3 linked regions of the Homo sapiens genome follow. The protein of the gene in region 1 interacts with the protein of each later gene in a pairwise test. Each region holds a gene or a part of one and is shown on either strand. Other genes may lie near its edges.

Evidence for each region. The genes of interacting proteins can lie anywhere in the genome.
Region 2: the proteins of SH3GL1 (region 1) and CCDC50 interact in binary tests that used the Homo sapiens proteins (3 or more experiments, as listed by UniProt).
Region 3: the proteins of SH3GL1 (region 1) and EEIG1 interact in binary tests that used the Homo sapiens proteins (3 or more experiments, as listed by UniProt).

The regions. Positions count from the first base shown.
Region 1 is NC_000019.10:4,361,900-4,370,579, forward strand, and holds part of SH3GL1 (endophilin-A2), read right to left. Parts: intron 5,096-8,680; coding exon 5,027-5,095; intron 4,675-5,026; coding exon 4,602-4,674; intron 3,727-4,601; coding exon 3,583-3,726; intron 2,323-3,582; coding exon 2,189-2,322; intron 1,980-2,188; coding exon 1,821-1,979; intron 1,575-1,820; coding exon 1,471-1,574; intron 838-1,470; coding exon 713-837; intron 487-712; coding exon 430-486; intron 1-429. UniProt on the Homo sapiens protein: Implicated in endocytosis. May recruit other proteins to membranes with high curvature.
Region 2 is NC_000003.12:191,395,394-191,399,159, reverse strand, and holds the end of CCDC50 (coiled-coil domain-containing protein 50 long isoform), read right to left. Parts: 3' UTR 501-3,766; downstream 1-500.
Region 3 is NC_000009.12:127,977,990-127,984,920, forward strand, and holds the start of EEIG1 (early estrogen-induced gene 1 protein), read right to left. Parts: upstream 3,001-6,931; 5' UTR 2,149-3,000; coding exon 2,003-2,148; intron 1-2,002. UniProt on the Homo sapiens protein: Key component of TNFSF11/RANKL- and TNF-induced osteoclastogenesis pathways, thereby mediates bone resorption in pathological bone loss conditions.

The DNA of each region.
Region 1 (8,680 bases):
CCTCCCCTCTGCCCTGCCTGGGCCACCCCCTGCCCCTGCCACTTCTGGGGTCCGGCCTCTACTGCCACCCAGGAGGGAGGATGGGAGAAGCTTGGTTTAAGTGGTCACCAAAGCTACTCCTGGGAAGTGCTGGGGACACCCGGTGCTGCTGCGGTGACAGGGAGTGACCAGATGCCCTCAAGCCCTTGTAGCCACCACACAGCCTAGAGCTAGCTGGGCTAGTGCCCTTGGCAATCCCTCATTCACACTGTGAGGCTGAGACCCAGAGGGGTGGCATCTTGCAGGCTGTGGGGCCTGTGCCCCCTACTGCTGCACGAGCCTGGCCCCTCCCTGCTTGAGATGGGCAGAGAACAGGGCGGGAGGAGAAACACCCTCCCCGAATGGCCGAGAAGGCAGCACTGAGGTCGAGGCGGGCCTGGGAACACTCACGCATGCTCCGGCTAGGGGTCCGGATGGGCTTGTCGGAAGATCGGAAAGACGATGAAGCTAAACACAAGCAAAACGAGGAGGCTGTGGGCTCAAAACGGTCGGGCAGGGCCCCTTCTGCAGAAGGCTGGGGCCAGCCCTTCCCGTCTGCCTTGGCGGTCCAGATGGAGCACGGCTGAGAGCTGCACCCAGGAGTCTGGCGCTCAGAGACCCAGGACAGGGCCAGCCCTTGGCCACTCCCACCCGCTGGCATTTGCCTCCGCAAGAGGGCTCCATGCCCCATTACCTGCGATCTTGGGGGCTGTGGTGCAGGGGAAGCCCCCGTTGGACTGCTCAGGCTCTCCAAGGTCAAAGGGCTCCCGGGGCTTGGGCTTATACTCCCGCTTAGGGCGTGAGGAAGCTTCCCGCATCCTGTGAAGGGAGAGGCGTGAGTGGACCGAGCCCGTGTCACGGCCGAGGCAGCCCCACTCTTGTATTTATGCTGCTGCCTAATGACCTGGCCTGGGACTGCAGGAAGAGGCCGTCAGTGGGGTTGTGACACATGGACCCTGGGACACAGCTAGACTGGGATGTCTACCCAGAGGGCCTCCAGCCTGGACCCCCACCTTGGAGGCATCCCAGAGATTGCCAAGCAGCTGGGGCCTGCCACAGCATCTACCTACAACACCCCCAGTCGCATCCCCTGCCTCCTCCCCCAATTCCCCACCACGGACGGCGCCCCACATACGCCAAGGCCCCTGAAGCAGGTCTGGCCTCTGCATTCAGGGAGGGGAGCCTGGGTGTTCCTGTGGCAGCAGCAACGTGCAGCCAGGGAGGGAGTCCCCGGGGCCTGCATCGGGGCAGGGCTGGGTGTTGACTCAGAGTTCTCAGAGCCCCAGCTCCTCTGACCTCGCGGCCCCCCAGGCCTTTCCACTCAGTCCCCAGGAAGAATCCAGGATGCTGCTCTGCCATGTGCTCACCCCACAGCGAGGTGTGCTGCCCACTTGCGCTGGCAGAGGGCGCATGGCAGCCCAGACTCTGGAGAGACCAAGGCCCTGGGCTCACCTGCGCTTGAGCTTCTCCGCCAGCTCGTCCAGGATCTGCACGGCCTGCCGGTGGTAGTCCAGCTGTGCATCCACCAGGGCCGAGAGCTGACTCACCTGCTCGATCTGTGGGGACAGTAGGGCTCAGGGGCTCCTGCCAGTGCCACTGTCCTGTGCCTTCCCTGACTCCCGAGGTGAAGCCACAGGAGGCAAGGGGGCTGAGAGGGGACAGGGGACTGGGGCCCATACCCTCCACCTCCCCTGCTGCAGCGGCCAGGTAGGTGCCGATCTGTCCTCCAGCTCCCTTGAGGCACCACCCCGGCCTCCCAAGGGCATAGGTCTTCTCAGGATGTGACACCCCGAGCTACTCACGTCAGTCTCCAGGAGGTTGTGCATGCTGGTTTCTGCCACCTCCTTGGACTCCTCGAACTTCTCCAGCGCCTGGCGTAGCTCCTCATCGGGGATCTTGCCCTGCCGCTTCTTCTTGTAGTCAAAGTCCAGGCGGCGGCCCTCCAGTTTCTTCAGGTGGTGCTGGAGACGTGGGGGACATGGGTCACACCAGTAGCGGCCAGAGGGCCGCCCCACGCATGGCTTTGACCCACTGTCCCTGCACCACTGGGGATCCTGCCTGCCTGAGACCCAGAGGGCAGTGCCGAGGCTGGAGGTGAGGGTGGCAGGAATGGGGCTGCCCCATCCGGCAGGGGGAAGGGACAGGCCCCAGGCTGGCGCAGGAGCAGCACCTGGATCTCCTTCAGGTCTTTCTCGCACAGGTTCTGGAGGGGGTCAATGAAGTTCTGCTTGACCTCGATGTCCAGGGAGTCCTTCACCTCTGCCAGGCGCTTCATGGACTCGCCGGCATCCAGCAATGCGTCACCTGTGGAGAAGTGGTGGGGGAAGCCATCATACCGGGCCTGGGACCACTAGACTGAGACACTCCTCAGCCTTTGTTTTTGAAATAGCGTTTCACAGGCTGGAACGCAGTGGCGCTGTACCAGCTCACTGCAGGCCTCAAACTGGGCTCAAGCCATGCTGGCACCTCAGCCTCCCAAGTAGCCGGGACCACAGGCGTTCACCCCCACACCTGGATCCTTTCCAACTTCTTTGAGATGAAGTCTCGCTGTTGCCCAGGCTGCAGTGCAGTGGCATGATCTCAGCTCACTGCAACCTCTGCCTCCCAGGTTCAAGCAATTCTCCTGTCTCAGCCTCCTGAGTAAGGGGGATTACAGGGGCCTGCCACCACATCCAGCTAATTTTTGTATTTTTAATAGAGACGGGGTTTCACCATATAGACCACACCGGTCTCGAACTCCTGACCTTGTGATCCGCCCGCCTCGGCCTCCCAAAGTGTTGGGATTACAGGCGTGAGCCACCGCACCCGGTTTTTGTTTTGTTTTGTTTTGTTTTGTTTTTTCATAGTCTCGGCTCACTGCAACCTCCACCTCCTGGGTTCAAGTGATTCTCCTGCCTCAGCCTCCCGAGTAGCTGGGGTTACAGGCATGCACTACCACACCCGGCTAATTGTGTGTGTGTGTGTGTGTGTGTGTGTGTGTGTATATATATATATATATATTTTTTTTTTTTTAGTAGAAGCGGGGTGGGGTTTCTCCATATTGGTCTTGCTGGTCTCGAATTCCCGATCTCAGGTGATCCACCTGCCTTGGCCTCCCAAAGTGTTGGGATTACAGGCATGAGCCACCACACTTGGCCCCATCCCAACTTCTAACAGCCCCCCAACACTCTAAGCCCAGGGCCCGGAAATTGGAACTCAGGGCAAAACAAAGGATCCTAAAATCCGAATCGATGCTGGACGTTAAACCAGACCCTCCAATGCTCCTAAAAGGGCCTAGGTTTGCCCTTAACAGGTGGAAGGACAGATGCTGGGGGGTCCAGGCCCTGGGGAAGCAGCTGGCTTGAGTTGGGGAAGGTCTGGAGCTACAGGAAGGGGCCCTATCAGCTGCTGGCCAGTGCTGGATGGGTTGGTCTGTGCAGTCTCCTGCACCTCTGCAGCTGGAAAGCTGTGGGGGCCACTGTACGTCCCCGGCACTCAGCACATGCAGGGCCTGGACCTGCCCTGCCTGTGTTGAGGTGTGGCCTCCAGGGACGGTGGGCGTGGCTTCCAGAGAGCACCACTCACCAAAGTTGGACTCGCCGCCCAGCTCCTTCCCGTGGCGGATCATGCACTCGCCCAGAAGCCCCTCCGACTGCGGGTAGCCGGGGTTCTTCACCTGGCCCCGGATCTTGGACACCGTGTTGAGCATGGTCAGCTTAGCCCGCGAGGCTGGGATAGGATGGCCAGGTGGGTGTGGGCTGTGAGGCCTGCACTCCTCTGCCCTGGCAGACTGCAGCCCCCACATCTCCTCCCCACCCTTGCTTCCTGTGCCTGTGGACAGCCTAGGCCACACAAAGCACAGTGGAATCCCCAGAGGGTCCCTTCCCTGCTCCTGCTAGCCTCAAAGGAGCTGGCAGCGGGTGGAGAGGTGACCAAGCTCCTCAGGGGGCAAAACCTCCTCCTTCCAAGGGCTGCTCCTCTTGGAACGTGGCTATGACCCCTCATCTGGGGGGTGCCAGGGAGGAGGCGCAGCAGTGATGTGCAGCGGGGGGTGGTTGAGGCCAAGGCTCCCGGGGTGGGTGATGAGCTGTGTCCCTTCCGCTGCCCGCTTGGGTCTGCTCCTGGCAGGGCCTGAGTGGACACTGCTGGGTGTGCGTCTGCCCCCTGTCCGTGGCCTCCTATGGAGCCAGCATTTGGGTTTTCCTTGGGGAAAAGCCCGTCTCTCAGCCAGGGAGACCCAGTCCCAAGCCCAAGAGGTGAAGTCCAGGCCAGGGGCACTGGGGAGGGGCGGCCAATACAAATGGATCCCACAAGTAAGCTGGGGGAGAGGCTCCCTGCCAGGACTGCTGGCTGGAAGAGGGGTTGAAGGCTGGGACGGCCCTGAGGAACCAGTCGGCATGAGAGTGAAGCCAACAGAGGGGCTGAGCTGCTGGTTGAGGTGGAAAGGCAGCATGCAGCACCAAGGATGGCCTCTGCACTCCGGGATCCAGCTGTGCCTGAAGCCCACAACCCATGAGCCTGGCGGTTCTGTCATCCCCTGCCTTCCCTCTGACACAGAGGCCAGAGGGCCTGGGGCAGGCCCTGGCAGTGGCTGGAGCACCCACCTGGGTTGGGCTGCAGGTACTCGATGGTCCTGGCCAGCACTTCTGTCACCGCCTTGCTGGTGACATCCACCTTCTGTGAAGAGAAGCAGCATATAAGACTCCACAGCCAGTGGGGGCCCAAGGCACACAAGACCCCCGCTGCTGCACCGCCTCCTGCCCTAAGAGCCCATACCAGGACCCCCCAACCCCCTCTCCATGTCTTCAGCTCAGCCATGTCCCCACAGCTGCCTGCCCACGGCAGGGGAGAGAGCTGGTGCCCGTCAAGTCCAGCTGACGAGGCCCCCACACCACCCCATCTCTCCACACCTGCCGGGCCCCATCACTCCAGACCCAGGCCCATCAAGGTTGGCCGCCTCCACTATGCCCGGCAGAGGTCAGGCCCCAGCAGTGCCACCACCACACAGAGCACGCAGTTTCTTCCTCACCTTCTCCATCTCTTTGAAGTCATCATCCAGCTTGGTCCCCTCGGCCCCTCCGACCTTCTCACTGACCAGCTAGAGGACAGAAGAGGGGAAACGCTGTGAGCCCAGGGGTAGGAGGAAGAAGAGGACAGGAGGCCCTGAGCCGCCTTCCAGCCACATCGCATCCACAGCTGGAGGCAGGAGGCCAAGTGATCAGGACACACACCTCAGGCACTGCCGTGGGCACCCCAGGGCCACACGCTGCCTGCAGAGCAGGGTGGGCCTGCAGGGGGAGGGGGAGGGTGGGGGTGGCCTGCCCACCTGTGTGTGTCCCGACTGCCACTCACATACCCACTGGGGACCCTGCCACAGTAGGCCCCATCTGGGCCACGGTGGAGTCCAGAGCCTCAGCCTGAGAACACATGGCTCAGAAGACACTGCTTCCAGAAGCGCCTACACAAACATCCCCACAGATAGCAATGTGGGGATCTGCCCCCATCCTTGAGTATGTGGGGTCTACTTAAAAAAAAAAATCCTGCCAGCTTGGCTGGGAGAGGCAGCAGGAGCTGACAGTTACGAGAAGAGGTGCAGGCAGCCGGGCAGGGAGGCCGCCATTCTCCTGTGCTCTGGTGCCCGTGTCTGCAGGATGGGACAGCCCAGCCCTTGCCCCATGTGGACACTGAGTTTCACAAGGCAGTCAACACAGGCCTGGCACACCTTGGTCCTCACGGCTCTCAGCTACGGTGAAAGCGATGACAATGACAGGCACTTACAGCGTCTTTCCTCGTGTGGTGGGAAGGCAGAAGCAAGCACTGAATTCCCAAACCACTCCCTCTGACAGCGCCTGGGATGCGAAAAACAGCCCTGAAATGTCCCATGGAACATGGCGGGAACCACTGAACCCCAGCACCGCTGTCTGAGCACAGGCGTTGCTTTCTTCACCCCACGTATCCCATGTGTGCCTGGCGCCAAGGGATGCCGCACAGAGTGAGGATGGACAGTGTGAGGCCCTTCCCAGCACACAGCGCTTCATGAAGAGCCGAGTGGCTGCCAGGCCCTGCCACAAATGGAGGCTCCCAGAGGGAGGCCGCCTGAGGTCACAAGCTTGGCCCTGCCCTCTGGGGGCCAAGTGTCACAGGGTGTGCCATCTCTGAAGTCATCGGCAAATTTAACATCCCGGGTCTGATCACTTGTGTGAAGACGTGCACACACGGCCTGGGCAGGAGAGTGAGGTGTTGCGTGCCGTGGGCCATGGCCTGTGCCCCTGGTGCTCCCCAGGTCTGATTGGTGCTTGCCTGCCCCGAGCTGTCACAAGACGTGGCCAAGGGATGCCATGAGGGTCCGTGTGGTGCCACACTGCGTTGGCTGTGTGGGGCTGGGGGGTGTCCAGCAGGGCAGTCAGGAGTTTAGGACCCAGCCTGGGAGGAAGTGACCCAAGAGCAGGAAGTGCGGGGGCAGGAGAAGCTTGAGCCTGGGGCTCTGCCCACGCCAGGCACCTGGTGTACCCTCTAGCCCATGCCTGGAGGTCACAGCCCAAGGCACCATGAGTGCAAATGCCCCCAACCCCAAGTTCTGCAAAAGGTAGCCTGCCCGGAGTACACGGCTGGTCTTGTGTCCTGGCAACCTGCCCAAAAAGACACCAGCCCCTTTGCCAAGGAATTCCTGGCCCTCCTCCAAGGCTTGGCTCTGGAAGCCCCCACACCACGGGACTGTCCTCACCCACGCATCGGGACCCTTTCTGTCCACCTGCCTTCATGTGCGGGGTGTGCCGGGCATTCAGTGAGCACAGGCCCCATGCCTCTGACCCCTGTCCCTTTCCTGCCTGTGGGTTGGTGGCTCTCAACTCAGCCACACAGCACCTTGGAAGCTTCTTAAAAATCCCCTCGTTGGCCGGGCGCGGTGACTCATGCCTGTAATCCCAGCACTTTGGGAGGCTGAGGCAGGCGGATCATGAGGTCAGGAGATCGAGACCATCCTGGCTAACACAGTGAAACCCCGTCTCTACTAAAAATACAAAAAAATTAGCCGGGCCTGATGGCGGGTGCCTGTAGTCCCAGCTACTCGGGAGGCTGAGGTAGGAGAATGGTGTGAACCCGGGAGGTGGAGCTTGCAGTCAGCAGAGATCCAGCCACTGCACTCCAGCCTAGGCGACAGAGCAAGACTCCATCTCAAAAGAAAGAAGAAAGAAAAAAAAAATCACCTCGTCACACCCACCGCGGGAGGGCTGACTCTGGCACAGGTGAGAAGCAGGAACTGTCCCTTGCGGGGCAGGAGAGTGGGGCTGCCCTCCATTTCTGCTGAAGGCATTAGGAGGAAGGAGCCCCCCCTCCCTAGGTGTTTTTGGGGCGTTCCACTCTATTTCCTGGGACAGTTTCACTTCTTTTGATTGTGGCGAGAGAGGGCGTGCTCAGAGCCAGCGGCTGCCGGAGAGGGAAATGAGTGGCTGATGTGAGACTGGACTCTTCTGGGAAGCCGGGAGGAGAACTGAAGCCAGCGGGCTGCGAAACCACACCTTCTGGGCGGAGGCCACCCCGGCCCCACGACCTGCCCAGGCAGGACCCAGTGTGCAGGCTGGCAGGAGTGGCTCCGTCAGGGCCCTTCCCCAGCCCCCTGCCTCTCACAGGGCAGGAGGAGAGGCCCTACCGGCGAGGACCACATCCTGCCTCTGAGGGGAGGGGCTGGGGACCCGCCACGGTACCAAAGACCCACCTGGTGGCCTCTGGCTCTGGCCCTGGCCCCACCTGCCCATCTCACCTGGGAATCCAGGACCCTGCCTTCCTGAGCCCCAGGACGACTTCCTGAACCCCCACAACCGCCTGACTCCTCGCACCCCTGACACCCGGGAGGCTGTGCCCTAACTACCCGGGTCCCTCTGCTCAGCTCCAGCCAAGTCCCTTGTGGTGACTGATGGTCCCCCACGGGCCAGGCACTGGGCAGGGGACACAACCCTGTAAGGCCCCTTCTCTCCAAGGCTTATGGGCTAGAAACCAGCACAGATGGACACAGGGATGAGCAGCCACAAGGGAAACACGGGAAAAGCAAGGCAGCCGGGCCACGTGCAGCGCCGGCCGCAAGCGCGGAAACCAAGCGTGGGCTCCTGCCCGCTGGGGCCCTACTCACTGCGGTCTCCACACCAGCACACTGCTGAGCACGGAGGGGACCGAGAGTCTGCGGCAGAGCTGGGCGCCACGGGGAGGCTCACCAGAGGGCGCCTCTGGGCTCGCTGTCAGGAGCGAGTGTTCCTAACCCTGGTGCCATCTGCCAGGCAAGAGCTGCCTGTTGTGGGGCAGCCAGCCCCAATGCCCCCGCATCAGAGACCCTACCGGTGGGGAGGGAGGACTGAGGCCATGGTCCCAGCAGTCCATTCCTGCCGAGGGAGACTCTGCAGGCTGGCTGTAGCCCTGACTAGTGCAGCGGACTCAGCAGTGGCAATGACAGCTCCGCACTCGAGTCCATCCCATACCCACAAGGCTCGCCTCCTGTTCCCACCCCGCATGGCAGGAAACGGAGGAAAATAATGGGGCCACTCAGTAGCCAGGGACCCAACAGGGCTCAGGGGTGAGACCACCCTCCGCTGACTGAACCTGCATCAGGGTGGCAGGGTGGGTGGGGGCCCCCTCCCCACTCTCCCACAGGGCCCCACCTGGACGGGGTCAGAGTACCAGCTGCAAACCCCGA
Region 2 (3,766 bases), on another chromosome or scaffold:
ACATACTAATCTTCAACTAAATAAAACAGTATCACCTGCACATCACTGGTACTACTCAGGATCTAGCAGAGACTACAGAAATCATTTAGATTTCCTGCTATATTTGCCACAGAGGAATCTGAGGCCTAGAGAATCTACTGTAGGGGTGGCTAAATAGTGACATCTTTAAAAATAAATTTAGTAGTCATTGAAAATATTATATTTAAGATACCTAATTTTTGCAGAATCATTTCCTACATTGTGGCTATTCTATCAAACCAAATAAGAAAAAAAAAATTCTTATGAAGGTAAAATATTGAATAAATCAGTTATTAATATCCATTTCTCAAAATACATTGAAGTGTCCACAAGGTGTCAGGTATAGTGCAGAGTTGTGCATGGGGTCTTTAATCACTGGAATTATTGTGTGAACATCCACTTACCTGTTTTTTTTCCTCCCAAATATATCAATCAAACCACGAAACACCACACACAAAACAAAGCTACTTCTCCAACTGATCCACACTTGGCAGTATTTATTGAGGATTTCAATACACCAGGCATCATTATCATGTTATACATATTTACAGAAAGTGTATGGAAATGGAGTAAGAAAAAATTTCACTGTTACTAAACAGACCTATTAGGGTCATTTTGTAAATAATAATAATTATAATAAGACTCTCGTAAGTTTCCCTGTCCTTGAATGCTGTAAAGAAACAAAACAAAAACATGAGACAGAGACCACTGACTTAACAAATGGATGACTTTATTAAGAGAGAAGGACAAGACTGATGTTTACCTTGGTCAAACCATCCAGGAAAACAAAGCACACAGACTTATAGAATACTTTGGTTTAAAAATTATTCATAATATCAATATTAAACCTGATGTTTAAAGAACCTAATGAGAAATATAGTGTAAAAAACAAACCATGAAAACACAAGTTTGCATAGATGAATTAATGTAGATGTACAATTGGCATTTAAAAAAGGAGGTTTGCGTTTTGGGAGTGCCTTAACGATGTTGAACACCTCAACCTCCCAAGACACATGAAAGTCACCAGCACCACAATTCTCATTTTCCTCAATGAGGTCATGAGCAGGAACAACTTGTGCTGTACGGAGGTGAACTGAAAGAGACTGCTTCCATTGGCCTAGTCCAGATGAGTGTATATATTCCCATCAGAACCCACCACTGGTCATCTTTAAGGCATCCACAAAATGTCCCTCACAAATTCACTTAATCTCTAGATAGGCATGTGGTCTGAGGCAGCCTCTTTGTTTTCTGTCCTCACACAGGCAACTGCATTCCATCAAGGTTCTGTTCAATTCCACGAACTAGCTATTTCAAAGCTGCCTATTCTTCTGGGGCTTGGTTATAAATCCATGTGGATTTGGAATAACAATCCATTTGTTTTATAAATATATCCACATTCCAAATATCAAAGGGGCACTTCCTAAGGAATCTGAAAGTGCCCAGGCAATGCGTAGTCTCTCTCTCAAGAGATCACGTTTCTAAATTATGAGACAAATGATAGCATCACCTCAGGTTTCCTGGGCAACTTGATTTATATGAGCAAACTCTTGTACTTTTTAATTCAGCACCTTTTCAAAATATGTGCTGGGATGGATTCTTCTTAGGGAAAGCCCCATATAGAATTCTCATTTTGGAGCATCATTTTTATATGCTATCTCCCCAGTGTATCTTCTCAATATTTATAACACTTTATGAAATAAATATTGGGTTGCCTGTAAGAAGAGAAAAATATAGCTCTTTCTGAGAAAGAGCATTTGGCTTGCAGTTTACAGCAAGAGCTGAAATTAGAGACCATAGGGATTTCCAAGACCAATTTGACCAGAAATACAAAAATTCTGATGTCAAAAACCCTCTCACAAAATTTAACAGGTAGAAATTATTTTAGCAGTATAGCCTGAAATCCAGTGCAACAAAAATGTATCCCAATTCTATGATATGTCATAGTATGTTCTCTTAGCTGTCTTCCCTTACTTGTTCTTACTCCTTACTTGATCTTTTGGGAAGAAAATGTCGCCCAAACCCATCTTTCAATTTTTCTATTCTTTATATGAACCTCAGCAATGAATAACAGGGCATTAAGTTACACAATTAATTATGCCCTTATCTGAAATGCTGAAACCTGCACAGTGCTGGTTCTCTATGCTATGAAGTTAACTCAAAAAGAGAAAAAACATTTTCTTCTAGTTTGCTGAGAATGTACAAATGCATCTTAAATCTATTAAAATGTTACTAGGCAGTGTTCACATATTTATATATATAAGGGAAAGAGAATGGTTTTTAGGGCCATATATTTCTACAACTCAACATGATTACACGATTGTGTTAGCCTGTGGCATCAAACAGAATCACCACTCTGGTGTCTTTCTTATCAAAGCAAAAGTTTTCCTGCTTTTCTCTTATAAGTAATAAAACAGAAACACTCTTCACATTAGCAAACCTCCCATTTCAAGTAAATGTCTCTGTTTTGTTCGGTTTTCTCCTTTTTTTTCCCTGTTAATGGTTAAGCATTTCAATACACAAGGGTGTTGGTGAAATTCTTACAAATAATCTGAATGTCTTCACTGCATAACAGAACCTTTGGAAATATCTTCTATGTAGTCACCATAGAAGACAGTCAACTCTCAGTTACTCAAGAAGTGGTACCTGGTATGAAGGATTTGGCCAAGAAATTCTCTCCTTCTACCAGTCTTTTTGGTCATGCCACTGCTTATTCAGAGGTGGACAGACAACATGAAATAAAATTATGTATTTATTGTGTTACAGATCAGCCACAAGTCAGTGGCAGAAAAGGTCCAAAGCTTCTGATGACAAGGATACTTGGGGATCATCTGTGAATGTTATATCTCAATGGAAAGCTGACTGTCAGTCACATAAAGGAAGTAACGTACACTGACATCAGTCAGAGTCAAACTAATTTAAGGCAGTACTGCTCCTCACAAACAGTGCTGGCATAAAGTGCAGGTCTCATTGTAAAAGTGACTCTGTAGTAGTAAGATTTTCTCAGTTTACTCTTTCTTTCTTGACTTCTCTACAATTAAATTTCAGCATTTCTAATGACAGTTGTTAAATACCAGGAGCAACAATATCCTGACTCTTTAATATTCTTACCTCTCGCCATGGATAAAAGAGATTCTTCCACCAATAATTTGAAAGACATTGTGCCCCATGCAGCATTAACAGGACAGTCTCCAGTTTGCTTCTACCTGCCCATATTACTTATCATGGGCTAAAAAGAAAAAAAGTATTCTATCAACAGTAAGATAAGCAGATATGGCTTTAAGACTCACAGGCACCACCAGAAATGAGAAAATTGGACCATTTTATATAGTCACTTCTCTATGAGCAGTAAGTAATAGACAAAGTAATTTAAAAATCTTTTTTCCTTTTTGCTGAAGCATGAGGTTTTGATTTTGTTATGATCGTTTCAACAGAATATGGCACTCTATGTACAATGAAGTCTACCTTAGCACTCCTTACACAAATACCGTCTTCTCAAAAGGGAAAAAGCCTTTGGCTGCAAGTTCTATTCTATTATCAGTCCTTCAGAAAGCTGTTTACACAGAGATCTCACTCCTTTATTAGGGTGAAGATTTTACAGCCAATCATCATAGTTATCTTTCAAGAAAATAATCACTGAATAATGAATCATCTTGGTATTCCCCAAAGCGATGCTTATACAAAGGCAAGACATAAAAAATCTAGGACTTAAAATGTTAACCACTTGTGGAGTAAACTGAATGCACCATAT
Region 3 (6,931 bases), on another chromosome or scaffold:
GCCCTAGCTGTGAGCACAGCCTTCTCTCTGAAACCTCAGACTGCTGTGTGGGTGGCCTCAGGATCACAGGCTTCCCAGGCAACCAAGGAGGCCAGCCACCCCCACCACAAGGGGCAGCCCTTGTCCAAATTCCTCAGATAAGCAGCTCCCAACAGAACAGGGAGCCAGTGCTCAGAAAAAGCACCCCACCCTGTCCACACCGGAGATTCCTAAATCTGAGCCTGGCTGTGCAGTTCCCCTCCCTTCCCCTCCTCCCAGCAGAGTGTTTGACCTCTGGATTCAGCCAGCAGGCCCCCAAACCAGCGAAGTTCAGTTAATAACAGACTCCTTCGAGGTCCCTGGCAAGCCACTGACTTCCTCTTTCTGGGCCTCAGTTTCTCCGCCTATAACACGCACACATGGGCTCTCAGAACAGGGAGGCAGCTCTGGCTAACAGGGCCCACAAGGAGGCCCAGGGAGCAAAGGGCAGACCAGGTAGGGAAGCAGCGTGTCCCAGGCACTCGGCCAGGCCCTGCCCGCATACTATTTTATTTCATTTTTATTTTTTAAAAAGAGAGAGGCCGGGTGCAGTGGCTCACACTTGTAATCCCAGCACTCTAGAAGGCCAGGGGGCGGGGTGCGGGGTGGATCATTTGCAGTCAGGAGTTCGAGACCAGCCTCGCCAACATGGTAAAACCCCATTTCTACTAAAAATACAAAAAAATTATCGTGGTAGCGTGCGCCTGTAATCTCAGCTACTGAGGACGCTGAGGCAGGAGGATCGCTTGAACCCAGGAGGTGGAGGTTGCAGTGACCCAAGATCACGCCACTGCATTCCAGCCTAGGCAACAGAGTGAGACTCCATCTAAAAAATAAACAAAATTAAAATTTAAAAAAAATTAGCTGGGTGTGGTGGTTGGCACCTGTAATCCCAGCTATTCAGGAGACTGAGATATGAGAATTGATTGAACCCGGGAGGTAGAGGTTGCAGTGAGCCATGCTTGTGTCACTGCACTCCAGCCTGGGCAACAGAGTTAAATCGCGTCCCCCCAAAAAAGAAAAAAAAATAGAGACAGGAATCTAAGTCGTCCACGCTGGTCTTGAACTCCTGGCCTCAAGCAAGTCTTCCACGTAGGCCTCCCAAAGTGCTGGGATTACAGGAGTAAGCCACAGCATCCAGCCTGCCCTAAGTTCTCGCTGCTGCAGCTTCTCCACCTGTATTAGGCTCACTTTCCAGAAGAGGAGGCCCAGAAAGTAACAGAGTCAAGAGTCACACTCCCATCTGTAGAAGTCCAAGGCTCTTCGGAGACAGGCCAGGATGATGTGACCCCAGCTGGGCCCAATTGGCAAGGGACAGCCTGGGAACTCAGTTGCATTCAGCAACAAGCTGGGCAGCTGGACCTGCCAGGATGGGGACGAACAACACAAAACCAAACTCAACGGAGCCTCTTTCAGAGAGGGCAGCAGCCTCCTCGACAAGGGTATTTGCAATGCAAAGCAGCCCAGCTCCAGCCAGAGGAGGATAGTCACTCGGAGGGGGCTGGGTAGGCCAAAATCCAGCCACCTCCCTCCAGCCAGACTAGGGAGTGCCTGCGATCGGGCCTTCCCAGGCGCCTGGGGGTGCCGGGGAACCCGTGGCTGGCCTGGACTCTTGAATCATATGACAGCCCCAGTGGCCAGTTCGGGTGCAAGGTGGCCTGAACACCCCTCCCCTGCACAATCGCTCAGGGTACAAATCCCTGATAGGCTGTACATGCAAGTCTGCAGAATGGACCTACTGCAGGCGGCACGCAGGGCCCCAAGAGAAGGCTGAAAGACTAGACCCCCAGGTATTTGGCTGGCGGCTGCCTGGCACCCTGCCAACTGCCTCAGGCCCAGTCCTGCCTTGTGCAACCTGCCCCAGGCACACAGAATCCCCCGGATCCTCCTCACACCGGCCCCAAGGGGCCCTTCCACACTTGCCAAGTGTCTAGGTCTCGCTCATCACCCCCGCTGCTGCAGGCGCGACCGCCCCAGCTCCTACCTTGACGACAAGCTGACAAAATCCCCTCCATCCAGCAGCCGGACCTTGCAGAAGAGGACCCCGTTCACGAAGGGAACCGCAGTCAGCTCCTCCAGGGTGAAAGTAGTTTGGAATTTGAATTTCTTCTTCTTCATCAAGAAAGCCATGAGCGAGTTCCCTGAGTCTGAAGCCCCGAAGGCGAAAAAAGGTGGAGAGGGACGGGATTCCTTTCCCTACACCACACCCCCTCCTCAAAACACCAGAGCCGGATCCCGCCCTGATGGTGGCGGAGACGGCGGAGATCGGAGTCCGGGGCCCCAGGTCTGAGAGATCCACCAGTCCAGTTCGCGGGCCGGCGGGCTTCACCCTCGGGGAGCCGGGGCTCGGAGGGGTTCGGAGCGGCCGGGGACCTCACCGGCATGTAAACAGCAGGGCATGGCCCAGGAGGCAGAGGCAGGGGCGGAGGTGCGGGGCTGCGCGCGAGCGGCCGCGCTGGCTTGCAGCATCCCGAGACGCGATGTCCGGGGAGCTCACGCCGCGCGGCCGGGCGGACCGGTGAGACTGAGGGCGGCGGGCGGGCTGGCTGGCCGGTAAGGCTGAGGGCGGAGGGCGGCCCCGCCCCCGCCCCGCTGGCGGCCGGGGGAGGTGCCCTCGCCGCTCACGCCCCCGCACCTGGGTGCCGGGCGGCCAGCGCAGGTGAAGCCGGGGAAGGTGGGGCACCCCCAGGGGGCTGCCAGGAGCTCGGGGGCCTCTCCAGGAGGCGCGTCGGGGTCGCTGCGGGCCGGGAACGTCCGGCCTCGGGCCTCCTCAGGGCAGGCACCGGGCCGGCCCCGGGCAGCGGAGGCGCCGCCTCCTCCTCGATCCTGGGACCCGCGCCGCGGGCCCCGGCGGAGCTGAGGCGCCCTTCGGCCCGGCCGGTGGCGCCCGCCTCGCCCGGCACCCTTCGAGCAGCAGCGCCGCCCCCTGCGGCCCCGACGCTGCAGCCAGAGCCCGATGCTGCGAGGCGCCGCTTGGAGAATGCCTGGGCCCCGCGCGGCCGCCCGCCTAGCCGCCGCCGAGCACGGCAGGGGCGGGGCGCCGGCGGCTCAGCCCTCCCGCTATTGCGCGGCCCGGCTAGGCGGGCGCGCAGCGCGATTGGTGGGCGGTGGCGTGGGGTGGGACTCGCGGGAGGCAGAGGCGGCTCGGGGCTCTCGGATTGGTGCACCGCGCGGCCGGGCCCGCCTCCTAGGGCGGGGCGGGGCTGAGGGAAGGGAGAGGGGCCCTGGGAAGGCAGTGGGAGGTCGCAGGGCTGGCGGGGCAGGGAGAGCGCGAGCAGAAGAAAAGAAGAAACAATGACAAGGAGAAACAGTTTGTGGCTGCAGCGGCCTTCCAGGGTCCCGCCAGACTTGAGCTCGTAGAACCCTGAAGCAGGCCCGGAAGGTAGCGAGTCTCCTTTCTCAGAAAGCTGGCGCCCAGAGAGAGCCCCTGGCAGGTCGCTTGCTCGCCCTGAATCTCTAGTGCCCCTCAGCAATGAGCAGAGAAGCGTCTGGAAGGCTTCGCCGAGGAGGTGGCTCTGGCTCAGTCCATCACGCAGCCTTGTGACCCAGCTTGTAACATTCCAAGCTGTTATCTAAGCTTTCTGTTGTCCTTTAGTTTCTTGCCCAGCGTGACTGGTCTCACTGACTAGTTAGCTGTTCTGGGGGCAGAACCCACTCGAAAGCCTCGTACCTCCCAGGCCCCTCGGCATATTGTGGTTCATTCATCCAGTCCCCAAATGTTTAGGGGCAGTCTCCACTAAGCCAGGCTGGGACCTAGTGGAGAACCTGGTGGGCTTGCCCTTCCCAAATGCTCCCAGCTCAAGACCACCAGGTGGAGAAGCAGACAGGGACACAGGCAGCGACAAATCTATGGGTAAGAGTTGTAACAGGGGATAAGAGGCACCTGACATGGGTTGGGGCGCAGACTCAGAAAGTCTCGAACAAAGGGAGCCAAGCCATCCACAGGATGCGTGCCCTGAGTCACGCAGGGTCCAGGCATAGGGAGCTGCCAGAGACCTGGTGGCTGGAGATCGTGGTGCCCGCAGAAAGTTTCAGGCAACTACATCTGGCTGTACTGTGGCAGTTGGAGAGAGGGGCAAGAGATGGGGCTGGAAAGGCCAGATCTCCCAGAGTCTTGTAAGACCGTAAGGAGGAAGCCACGGACACGCGTTGAGATGGAGAGTGTCCTGGTCAGATTTGCTTTATTTTTTATTTATTTATTTTTTTTTGAGACGGAGTTTCGCTCTTTTTGCCCAGGCTGGAGTGCAGTGGTGCAATTTCCACTCACTGCAACCTCCGCCTCCTGGGTTCAAGCGATTCTCCTGCCTCAGCCTCCTAAGTAGCTGGGATTACAGGTGCGCGCCGCCACGCCCGGCTAATTTTGTATTTGTAGTACAGACCGGGTTTCACCGTGTTCGCCAGGCTGGTCTCAAACTCCTGACCTCAGGTGATCCGCCCACCTCGGCCTCTCAGAGTGCTGGGATTACAGGCGTGAGCCACGAGGCAAGGCCCAGATTTGCTTTTTGTCCTAAGAAGCTTGCTCTGGCTGTGGGCAGTGTGAAGGGGACAAGCTGGGAAACAGGTGGATGAGGAGTTTGTTTGGTGATGCAGGCAAGAGATGATGACAGTGCAACCTCAGCATTGTGGAGAAAGCAAGAGGATAGGTCTGAGGCATCTGAGAGACAGGTTTGACTGGACTTAGGGATGAGTTAGGTCTGGACATGTGGTGACCAAGGACTCTGGTTTCTTCCTTCTTCCCAGCTGTAAGATGGGTGGCGATCCATATTTCTCTCCAGTTTGTCCCATAATTTAGATCAGAGAGTTAACCAGATTAAAGAAAAGTGTTAACAGCAGCTTCCAATGTGACTGTGTGTCCCCTTTGGCAAACGGGGAAGTTAAGGCCTAGAGGATTTAAAACACTTGCCTGGGGTCTTTCCCCTGAAGCACAGGCTCAGAGTGCTGAACTGTGCTGCACACAGTGTGGGGTGTGCTCTCCTCACTATCTTGGCTGGGCCTGCTCCACAAGGGCAGAGCCTGTGGCTACCTGACCCCAGGAGGAGACTTCAGAGTGGAGAGCCAGCCAAGGACATCCCAGTGACTGGCTGGCTCCTCAGCTATGACCCTGAGTAACCTTGGGCCACCCAACAGGAAGCAGGGTGGGCCTGACTGCCAGGTTTAGCTGGGGTTGGGTATTTATCTCTCTGCGGCCTGTGGCCTGGGAACCCAGGAAATTTCCCTTCCCTCATTTCCCTGATGGTGCCTGGGGAAGGGGGAGAGTATGGTGCCAGGACAGCATGCTAGATTTGGGTGAGACAAGCCTGAGTTAGGATCCTGGCTCTGCTGCATGGTGGCGGTGTGGCCTTGGTTCAGGTCTCTGAATTGGTAAGGGGTTCGGTGTGGTATGGCTGGGACCACTTGCAACAGAACTGAGTTCAAAATCCGGCTACTTTGCCATTGACAACCGGGGCCACACAAGCTTTGGGTGCACCTTTGCATATGTAGAAAGGAATCTTGAAGAATACCGTAAACTTTCCCATCTCAGCCACGCTTCTTCACCTGTAAAATGGGAATCAGGATTTCCATCTTTCCGGAATGTGGTGAGGACTTCAAGAGGCTGTGCCTGTGAAAGGAATAGGCAGCTCCACACTTCCCCAGCCTCCCAAATTCCCAAGCATGGCCTATCCTACCTCCCCGAGGCCATGACCAGACGCATAAGGAACCTAGTACCAAACAAGATAATTGTTTGCCAGACCACAAGGCAAGTCGTCTGGAGAAGGAAACCCAGGGAAAGGTCAGAGAATGATTGGGTTGGAAGTCCTGATACAGATAGGGTGGTCAAGGAAGGCTTTTATGAGGTGTCATCTTAGCCAAGACCTAAGTAATAAGGCGGACCCAGGTACAGGAAGCTCTGGGGACAGAGGCATGAGCTGACATGTTTGGAGGACTCCGTGTGACTAGAATAGAGTGAGTACAGGGGACAGAGAGCGGTGGGGCAGACGAGCCTGTGCACATGGGCCCTTGTGGGCCTAGGAGGTGTTTTTTGTTTTGTTTTGTTTTGTTTTGAGTCCCGGTCTCACTCTGTTGCCCAGGCTGTAGTGCAGTGGCATGATCTCAGCTCACTGCAACCTCTAGCAGGTGTTTAGAGTTTATTCTAAGCCCCACGGGACAGCACTGGAGCATGTGAGCAGGCAGAAGGGTGACAAGATGCAAATTAACATTTTGTGTGTGTGTGTGTGTGTGTGTGTGTTTTGAGACTGAGTTTTGCTCTTGTTGCACAGGCTGGAGTGCAATGGCGCGATCTCGGCTCACTGCAACCTCTGCCTCCCGGGTTCAAGCGATTCTCCTGCCTCAGCCTCACAAGTAGCTGAGATTACAGGCATGCGCCACCATGCCCGGCTAATTTTTTGTATTTAATAGAGACGGGTTTCACCATGTTGGTCAGACGGGACTCAAACTCCTGACCTCAGGTGATCCACCCGGCTTGGCCTCCCAAAGTGCTGGGATTGCAGGCATGCACCATGCGCCTGGCCAAATTAACTTTTTTTTTTTTTTTTTTTTTTTCAGACAGAGTTTTGCTCTTGTTGCCCAGGCTGGAGTGTAATGGCTTGATCTTGGCTCACCACAACCTCCACCTCCCAGGTTCAAGCGATTCTCCTGCCTCAGTCTCCCAAGTAGCTGGGATTATAGGCATGTGCCACCACGCCCGGCTAATTTTGTATTTTTAGTAGAGACGTGGTTTCTCCATGTTGGTCAGGCTGGTCTCAAACTCCCGACCTCAGGTGATCTGCCTGCCTCGGCCCAAATTAACATTTTTAAACACTCCTTCTGGCTACTGAGAATGGATTGATTGGCAGGGGGCAAGAACAGAAGCAGGCAGACAGTGAGGAGGCAATTGCAGCCATCCCAGTGGGAGATTGACCAGGGTAACCAGGGT